Regions from separate parts of the Homo sapiens genome. Here all the other regions are reported to be linked to region 2. The links are microRNA targets in miRTarBase. Many come from high-throughput screens and were not tested one by one. Region 2 holds a microRNA gene; each other region holds the end of a gene's coding sequence.
Evidence for each region. Region 2 holds the annotated microRNA hsa-miR-143-5p (GGUGCAGUGCUGCAUCUCUGGU, at 2,294-2,315, shown strand). A microRNA usually pairs through its seed, bases 2 to 8, with sites in the 3' UTR of a target mRNA and lowers its output. Matches are read on the target gene's strand: a 7mer-m8 pairs with bases 2 to 8, a 7mer-A1 pairs with bases 2 to 7 and ends in A, and an 8mer does both.

Region 1 (3,000 bases), not on the chromosome of region 2:
TACAGAGGAACCATCACTTCTTTCCTACTTTGGGTGCCTAAGCAGCTTGCATTTCCATGCCCTGGGGCAGGAGAAGCAGAAAACTAAAATTATAATTGGTTACTATCAAATTTATTCATTCAAGAAGGAGTGAAAACAAAGCAATTTTACACCTTCATATTAGACACAATCTTGGAAAACAGGTTTTAATATGGATATAGGAGGATGTTGCTAAGTGCCATCATCGAATATGAATATTAAAATAGGAATGTGAATATTAAAATTAGATGTTACTCTGTAATTCCAGTGCTTTGGGAGGCTGAGGAGGTAAGATCGCTTCTGGCCAGTAGTCTGAGACCAGCCTGGACAACATAGCAAAACCTCGTCTGCACAAAAAATGAAAAAACATTAGCTGGGCATGGTGGTACTTTCCTGTGGTCCAAGCTACTTGGGAGGCTGAGATGCGAGGATCCCTTGTGCCCAGGAGTTTGAGGTTACAGTGAGCTATGATCTTGCCACTGTATCCAGCTTCAGTGATCGAGTGATACCTTGTCTCAAAACAACAATAACAACAAAGGAAGGGGCGGCGCGGGCCAGGTATGGTGGCTCCCTCCTGTAATCCCAGTACTTTGGGAGGCCGAGGCGGGTAGATCACCTGAGGTCAAGAGTTTGAGACCAGCCTGGCCAACATGGTGAAACCCCATCTCTACTAAAAATACAAAATTAGCCAGGTGTGGTGGCGCATGCCTGTAGTCCCAGCTACTCAGGAGGCTAAGACAGGAGAATTGCTTGAAACCGGGAGGTGGAGGCTGTAGTGAGCCGAGATTGTGCCACTGCACTCCAGCCTGGGAGAGACAGAGCGAGACTCCATCTCAAAACAAAACAAAACAAAACTTCTGGAATAGCATTACTGTCATGTATTGTAAAGTACAGAAGCTTCACTAAAGTCACTCATTTTGACTTCTACGTAGTTGTTGGAGCAATTACACTAGAGTCAAGAACCCCAGTTAAAAGTAAACTCAATTTAAAATAACTTGGAAATATCCTCCTCTTAACCCTACCAGGGTGTCTGCAAGTAAACCTGAAACTACAGTGCATAGGTATTAGAAATGAGTATCTTTCTAGACGTTCAAATTGAAAACCAACCTTCATGTACAATATACTCAAATTCCAGTGAAAGAGCTAATGGAAGACTAGGGGTTTTACTTGCCTTCTTCTTAGTATCATCTTTTTGTTCCCTTATTAAATTTGCTTTAAAACCAAGGGGGTAACATCCTGGTTTTTTTTTTTTTTTTGAGATGGAGTCGCACTCTGTGGCCCAGGCTGGAGTGCAGTGGCGCCATCTCAGCTCACTGCAAGCTCCGCCTCCCAGGTTCACGCCATTCTCCTGCCTCAGCCTCCCGAGTAGCTGGGACTATGGGTGCCCGCCACCACGCATGGCCAATTTTTTTGTATTTTTTTAGTAGAGACGGGGTTTCACCGTGTTAGCCAGGATGGTCTCGATCTCCTGACCTCGTGATCTGCCCGCCTTGGCCTCCCAAAGTGCTGGGATTAAATTTTTTTTTTTTTTAATGTTGAACTAGGATATTTAAACAATCCCAGTGCTTTCTATCAGAATGTGAGCTCTCTGACGGGTGAGCCATAGTCCTACGTTGTGCTCCTTTTCTGCAAGAGCAGAGGTCCAAGAACAGGGCTAAAGACCTCAGTGGGAATGACTGTTCTTCATCACATTCTGGATTCACAGCCAAACAGGGTAGCTGTGCTGTCAACACACTTAACAAGGCAACTGGTCTTAACTTCCGGAACTATATCCAGGAGCCAGGCCATTGATAAAACAGTTCTTTAAAAATTCTTGCCTTTGGTTCAAAGTAGGGAGAAAAGGATAACTTCAGGAAGTTTTTTATAGCTTAAAATATTGAGTCTCAGAAAGTTATATATATTCATCTCAGCAGTCTGAACGCTTAGATGATCAATCTGCAAGTAATTGGAAATGTACAAAGAAGAAAAATTGCTGGGAAGTTTGTCCTGGTCCACACACCACCACCAAAATGTGACACAATTTTTTTTTTTTTGAGATGGAGTCTCACTCTGTCGACCAGGCTGGAGTGAAGTGACGTGATCTCAGCTCGCTGCAACCTCTGCCCCCTGGGTTTCAAGTGATTCTCCTGCCTCAGCCTCCCAAGTAGCTGGGATTACAGGCACACGTCCGGCTAATTTTTGTATTTTTAGTAGAGACAGGGTTTCGCCATGTTGGCCAGGCTGGTCTGGAACTCCTGACTTCACGTGATCCATCTGCCTCGGCCTCCCAAAGTGCTGGGATTACGGGCGTGAGCCACAGTGCCCAGCCAAAATGCGACACTTCTTCCCTGTCTAGCAGTGCAAGATCTTAAAGTCAGATTATAAAACAAGTTGTATTCTCACTTTATCATTTTTCTCTGCAGTTCTAGGGCAGGTTTATCTGAATTACTTAAGTCCTTCATAGTATAGTGAGCATAAAAGAGGACACAAGCCAAATGTATACTTAAATTAAATAGCATGATTTAATTTAGTTGGTGCTTAACCCTGAATCCTCTTAAGTTAAAAAAAAAGTTATAATTAACTATTAACGTTAATGAATTTAAACCTTCCAGAAAGCATGAATCCAAAAGGAAATGTCCAACAGGTGATATGAACCAGATATTTTATGGCCTTTCCTGTTTCAGTCTCAAACTTTCTAAACATCAATGGGGAAAAAAAATTCTCTAGAGTTTTTCAGTTTTATTCTTCTAGAGCACAATTTTCCGGCCTGTTACTGAGTACGGTCTTCTAACAGGTACACAATTAACTCATAAGTAGACAACACAATGGCAGTATTTGGGATCTGCCGGATAAGCTGGGCAAACAGTCCTCTATAAAAGGCAAGGTAGCCTTCTTCCCGGAACACCAGGCGCGCCGTCTGGACAAAAGACTTGTACTTGGTGCCCTCTTCCCGGAGCCTCGTCCTTATGACTTCTGCAGAGAGAGAAAGACCTACTTTACGCC
Region 2 (3,349 bases):
TGCAATGGCAAGATCTCGGCTCACTGCAACCTCCACCTCCCCGGGTTCAAACCATTCTCCTGCCTCAGCCTCCCAGGTAGCTGGGATTACAGGCTCCCGCCACCACGCCTGGCTAATTTTTGTATTTTTAGTAGAGACAGGGTTTCACCATGTTGGCCGGGCTGGTCTCGAACTCCCAACCTCAGGTGATCCGCCTACCTTGGCCTCCCAAAGGGTTGGGATTACAGGTGTAAGCCACTGCTCCCAGCCTTTTTTTTTTTTTTTATTAGAGACAAGGGCTCCCCATGTTGCCCAGGCTGATCTTGAACTCTAGGCTCAAGCGATCCTCCTGCCTGAGCCTCCCAAAGTGCTAGGATTACAGGCATGAGCACTGCTCCCAGCTCTGTTTTTGTTTTTTTAAGGAGGTATATTTTTTCTGTTCTCTCTCAGCCCTGAAGAAAGGCTACCCATCCCCTTCAGACATTCCTGAAAATATATGTCATCCAACATCAAGGCCACCACAGTGACCACTAAGCAATGCAAGAAGGTCCTCTGGGGTGCCCTGAGATCTTGGCAGGGCAGGAAGAGTGAGAAGGGGCTTTGCCTGCTCACCTGAAAGTTCCCACCCAAGCCGGGCCCAGAAAACAAAATGAATTATCTACATGGTCATCCAATCAGCCACCAAATGGCATTACCTAGGTCCATCATCATGTACCAAGCCACAGGTCAGACCCAGGGCCCCCCAAATTAACAAGACACAGGCACTGTCCTCAGGAAGTGGAGATCTAGCCAGGTCAGACCCACACACAAATAACACTGATACTAGAGATAATGAGATTGGGAATTATGATTCAGCCATTCAACCTGGGCTTATGTGGCATCTACACCACCTGGCCCTGATTTCAGTAGTGAGCACAGTTGACAGGGTCCCTTCCCTTCACAGGTGAGCCATGTAGTCCACAAGTGGAGGTGGTCGTAAGTGAAAACCACATTACCAGCATGGTAAAGGGTTAGAAAGAGGGCACCGGGTGGGCGAGAACATGAAGCAGGGGGTGCTGATGGCTAAAGAAGTAAAGGAGGGGCTGGGCACTGTGGTTCATGCCTATAATCCCAGCACTTTGGGAGACCAAGGCGGGTGGATCACCTGAGGTCAGGAGTTCTAGACCAGCCTGGGCAACGTGGTGAAACCCTGTCTCTACTAAAAATACAAAAATTAGCCAGGCATGGTGGTGCACGCCTGTAGTCCCAGCTACTTGGGAGGCTGGGGCATGAGAATTGCTTTAACCCGGAAGGTGGAGTTTGCAGTGAGCCGAGATCGTGTCACTGCACTCCAGCCTGGGCGACAGAGGGAGACTCTGTCTCAAAAAAAAAAAAAAGTCAAGGAGGGTTTCCCAGAGTGGCCACTTGATTAGAGACCTAGCACAGGAGGAAGAGATGGGCAGGGAGAGTGACGGGGAGCAGCACAGTCCCTGGGAGCCCGAAGTGGGTGGGCACAGGGCTCCCTAGGAGAATGGAAGGACATCTATGAGCTGTAGCCCAAGAGGAAGAGGTCACTGGGGCTAGATGCGGCAGACCCTCGCAGGCTTTGGGAAGGGCTTCAGAATTCAGCCTGAGGGCAATGGGGAGCCCTTTTGGGATATTAAACTTGAGTAAGATATGAGCATATTTGCATCTTGAAAAATCATTATGGGAAGATGGCTGGGAAGAGAGGAGGAGTGGCAGAAGAAAGATAGGTTGGAGACAATTGATTGCTCGATGATATAAAATGTTAAGTACCATGAATGATGCTGTTAGGCTGGAATGCGCCAAGCATAAAGGTGGGGCATGGCATCAAAAGGTAGGTCAACATATTAAATAATTCCATGTATTGAAATATCCAGAAAATATATAGACAGATCTATAGAGATAGAAACTGGTCTGCCCAGGACTAGGGGTTGTCTAAGGATAAGGAGCTTCTTTTTTGGATGGTGAAATAACCTAAAATATATTGTGCCATTGTTTGCACAACTTTGTGAATATATTAAAAACCTGTTAATTGTACTCACTAAATGTCCTCCTTCTAAATTAAGCTGTTCTTGACAAGAAAAGGAAAGAAACAAAGAAAAGAAGAGAAAAAAGGTCAAGGTTTGGTCCTGGGTGCTCAAATGGCAGGCCACAGACAGGAAACACAGTTGTGAGGAATTACAACAGCCTCCCGGCCAGAGCTGGAGAGGTGGAGCCCAGGTCCCCTCTAACACCCCTTCTCCTGGCCAGGTTGGAGTCCCGCCACAGGCCACCAGAGCGGAGCAGCGCAGCGCCCTGTCTCCCAGCCTGAGGTGCAGTGCTGCATCTCTGGTCAGTTGGGAGTCTGAGATGAAGCACTGTAGCTCAGGAAGAGAGAAGTTGTTCTGCAGCCATCAGCCTGGAAGTGGTAAGTGCTGGGGGGTTGTGGGGGGCCATAACAGGAAGGACAGAGTGTTTCCAGACTCCATACTATCAGCCACTTGTGATGCTGGGGAAGTTCCTCTACACAAGTTCCCCTGGTGCCACGATCTGCTTCACGAGTCTGGGCATGTCCTGACTCCTCTGTGTACCCCAGTGTGTCCATCTTAGCATGAGGCGTTAGCATTTCCCCAGCACCCTGCCTCTGCTTTCTCTTTCTGAGCCCATGGCAGACACAGCTAATCAGTAAAGGCATATATTCTTTTTTTTTTGAGACACAGTCTCACTCCATCACCCAGGCTGGAGTGCAGTGGCATAATCTCAGCTCACTGCAACCTCCTCCTCCCAGGGTCAAGCAATTCTCGTGCCTCAGCCTCCCAAGTAGCTGAGATTACAGGTGTGCGCCACCACACCTGGCTAATTTTTGTATTTTTAGTAGAGATGGGGTTTCACTATGTTGGCCAGGCTGGTCTCAAACTCCTGACTTCAGGTGATCTGCCCGCCTCGGCCTCCCAAAGTGCTGGGATTACAGGCATGAGCCTCCACGCCCCGCCAGGCATCCATTCTTGAAGTGCTCAGATGCAGCTTCAGAATCCTCAACAATGAGCCCTGGAAAGCCACTAGTACTGATTCACAGCTGAAACTCATTCATCATTTGTGGATCAAACAATTCCTAAAAACCCTTTCAGCCCTGAAGATAAAAATTCTGGCCTTTGAGTCAGGGTCTTCACTCTGTACTTCTAACCTTGGCTCCGGGGTATTGCCGAAACCAGTCCAGGCACGTCACAAATGTCTGACTTCTCCCAGAGGCTTCAGAAGCACAATGAGCAGCAGAGGAGAGCCATGGAGCCAAGCACAGTCTCATTTAACCTCCCCAAAAGCTTGGGAAGTGGGTGGTGTTATAGCCCCATTTTACAGATGAGAAAAACTGAGGCTTATTTAAGCAGCT
Region 3 (3,349 bases), not on the chromosome of region 2:
TGTGAACTGGCACTAGTCCATGAACCAAACTTTGAGTACCTCTGCTCTAGATTTCAAAAACAGATGTGGATATATGTGTAAAAATTTGGTATATAAAAAAGATGCTTTTCTAGATGGGTAGAAGAAAAGATTGTTCAAATGTCCTATGGTCTCACAATCCAGTGGTTATAACTGTAAAACTCATCCAGCCTTTGGGAGACACTGAAACTCCATTTAAAGATAAGAACTTGAAGGATGTTTAATGTAAACCTAAATTGATTTTCCCTTCAACTCCTTTTGGGTACATAATTACTTTTACCTAGAAGCTGTTCTTGACTTTACTCATAACAATTATACCATGACCTCACTGTCCTTCTCCAAGATGAAACAAAAAACCCTTCAAGTGGGCCTGGCCAACAAGACTGAATCTATTGAGCCTATTGGTCAAGTTAGCCTTTGCTTAACTTTCCCCAACCCCTTCACTCCAGCCTTAGCTGGGATGCTTTTATATAATTTTCAGAGCATGGAAGAGAGACAAATAGAGCTTCCTCCTGCAATTGGCCCAAGATTTTAGGGGAGCAAAAGGCAAAAGATTGAAATCAATGACTAGGATGATGCCATGCCATAGTTCGCTGCAGGATTTCTGGCAAGGATTATGGATCATAAATTTCAAAATACCATAACTAGGACTTCTAGTCACAAGGTAGATGTGGAAATGATGGTCCAGAAGGTATATTTCGAGGCTTGGCATGAGGCACATAAGAGAAGACAGAAGCATGGCCTATCAGCGGATGTCATCATCCTCTGGTCAGGATGGAAACCAGGGCATTGGATAGAAATAAAGTCCCTCAGGTTATTTCTCCATGTAAAACCTGGAATCAGGGTACAGTGAGAGTAAAACTCAGTGCCCTTTAACTCCCCAAGTCTTCAAAACTCATTTCTAGACCAGGGTGTAGTGGTATTTCTCCAAGAGAAACCTACCAAACCAGGACAAAATCCCTGTAATAGCCTTCACTTATCTCCTACAAGTCCTTGAATTCTTGGCCACAGAAGACATTTCCTTCTTCTTTAACCCTCAGAAAGAAAGGGCCTGAGGAAACTAAAGTCAGTGGTTTCAATCTTTTGCCTTTTGCTCTCCTAAAAGCATGGGCCAAGGGCAGGAGGAAGCTCTAGTTGTCTGTCTCCCATGCTCTGAAAATTCTACAAAACACCCCAGCTAAGGCTGGAGTAACAGAGGAGGAAAGTTAAGCAAAGGCTAACCTGCTCAATAGATTCTTCCATATGATTGAATTTTAGAAATATAATAAAGTTCTTTTATGGGCCGGGCACAATGGCTCACGCCTGTAATCCCAGAACTTTAAGAGGCTGAGGTGTGCAGATAACCTGAGGTCAGGAGTTTGAGACCCACCTGGCCAACATGGTGAAACTTCGTCTCTACTGAAATACAAAAATTAGCTGGGCGTGGTGGTGGGCACCTGTAATCCCAGCTACTCGGGAGGCTAAGGCAGGAGAATCGCTTGAACCCAGGAAGCAGAGGTTGCACTGAGCTGAGATTGCACCATTGCACTCCAGCCTAGGTGACAGAGCCAGACTCTATCTCAAAAACAAAAAAAAAAAAAAAAGGTTTTTTACTTAAGAAAATCAGAGTTCATGGCTATGATTGTGCCACCTCTCAATTAGTTTTAATCTTTGTGAATTTCAATTTGAGAGAGAGTAAGACACTTTCGTGATCTCTTCTGAGAATGCCAATTACCATATTGACTAAAGTTGAAAGTCGTGTCAGAAGTTGGGAAAACCAGAAGGTTTGTTCCGCTTTCAATGGCTTGGCTCCTCACCTCTCATCTGGGTAGTTCTTTTTTTTTTTTTTTAGACAGAGTCTCGCTCTGTTGCCCAGGCTGGAGTGCAGTGGTGTCTCGGCTCACTGCAAGCTCCGCCTCCTGGGTTCACGCCATTCTCCTGCCTCAGCCTCCCAAGTAGCTGGGACTACAGGTGCCCGCCGCCACACCTGGCTAACTTTTTGTATTTTTTAGTAGAGACAGGGTTTCACTATGTTAGCCAGGATGGTCTTGATCTCCTGACCTCGTGATCTGCCCACCTCGGCCTCCCAAAGTGCTGGGATTACAAGCGTGAGCCACCATGCCCGGCCTCCTCTGGGTAGTTCTGAGAAAAGGGCTGTCTCTGTGACAGAAACATAGCTCTTTCTAAATGCCCTGATGCATGACTGACTTATTCTCCCTCCCTCATTCTTTCCCGATGAACTGAAAGGTCTTCCATGCTCTGTTCAAATTGAATGTTGGCCAACATCACTCTCATTCCTCCTCCTGGCAAGAATGGCATCCTAGGGTCCTAGGGCCCGCGAGTGATGCAAGAATTCTAAAACCTAGTTTCAAAAGAGTACCTACTAAAGATTTCATTCACTTTCTTGTGGTTCTAGTAAGGATTAATGTTGAATAAGAAGAGACACACATTAGAATGTACATATACATACACATAGAATATCCTCCTGTTCTAAATCCACATGAGAACACAGGCAGGCCTACACTTGAGATTTTTTGACACTTCATTTTTATAATTATCAAGAAATTATTAATTTTATAATTATTAAAAGCTACCAGTGTCTTCAGGCTTTGCATCTCTAGCACAAGGGGTATCATTATTCCCGAGTGGCACATCTTCATTCCCAATTCAGAAAGTACACATTGCCCTGCACGTCTCCCACGGCAAGCTGCAGGGTGGAGTTAGCGCCCAGCCAAGGTTCCAGGCAGCTCACTGACCCTTCGCATCGGAACAGGCCCAGCTACGATGGGAACAAAAATAGGGGAGGTCAGGGCTACAAGCCTCCTTACTAACTTATTTTTTCTCACATTAATGCCTTTTATTTAGAAACAGGTTAGTCATACATTGCAAGTGATTGAAGAAAACAGAATTTTGATCTTTTGCCCTTTCTTACTCTAAGTTTGCTGTCTTGTGACATCCCTTTGGGATAGGTGTGCAGGCGCACGCACACACACACACACACACACACACACACTTACCAGCTGCATACTGGGTCTCTCCCATAGCTTAACATCTCTGTCCTTCGAAGCTGTCACCAGCAACTCAGGTAGCACATGGAGGGCTGTGACAGAGCCCGAGTGAATCTCAAAGAGGAAAGGGGAGAGCAGAATGGTGAGTTCTCAGGGGCCCCTCCTCAGAGAAGCATCACAATGTGCTGTGTCAGACCTACAGCCCTCCTCCCTTAGTATTTCTTTTTTTTTTTTTTGAGACAAGAGTCTCGCTCTGTCGCCCAGGCTGGAGTGCAGTGGCGCAATCTCGGCTCACCGCAAGCTCTGCCTCCCGGGTTCACACCATTCTCCTGCCTCAGACTCCC

Region 1: the mRNA of SLC25A33 is a reported target of hsa-miR-143-5p. Seed matches in the 3' UTR shown: 7mer-m8 at 1,308-1,314.
Region 3: the mRNA of TEP1 is a reported target of hsa-miR-143-5p. Seed matches in the 3' UTR shown: 7mer-m8 at 1,880-1,886 and 7mer-A1 at 1,351-1,357.

What each region holds. Positions count from the first base shown.
Region 1 is chr1:9,582,269-9,585,268 of GRCh38, reverse strand. It overlaps SLC25A33 (solute carrier family 25 member 33), which reads right to left. Exons shown (of 7, transcript NM_032315.3): 7 at 96-2,970. The coding sequence ends at 2,768. Among named protein-coding and RNA genes, the nearest start is that of TMEM201, 5.1 kb to the left of the region's middle.
Region 2 is chr5:149,426,651-149,429,999 of GRCh38, forward strand. It overlaps MIR143 (microRNA 143), which reads left to right and starts at 2,268; the gene lies at 2,268-2,373. CARMN (cardiac mesoderm enhancer-associated non-coding RNA) reads left to right here. Exons shown (of 5, transcript NR_105060.1): 4 at 2,233-2,389.
Region 3 is chr14:20,365,784-20,369,132 of GRCh38, forward strand. It overlaps TEP1 (telomerase associated protein 1), which reads right to left. Exons shown (of 55, transcript NM_007110.5): 54 at 3,015-3,119; 55 at 1-2,776. The coding sequence ends at 2,654. Among named protein-coding and RNA genes, the nearest start is that of PARP2, 24 kb to the left of the region's middle.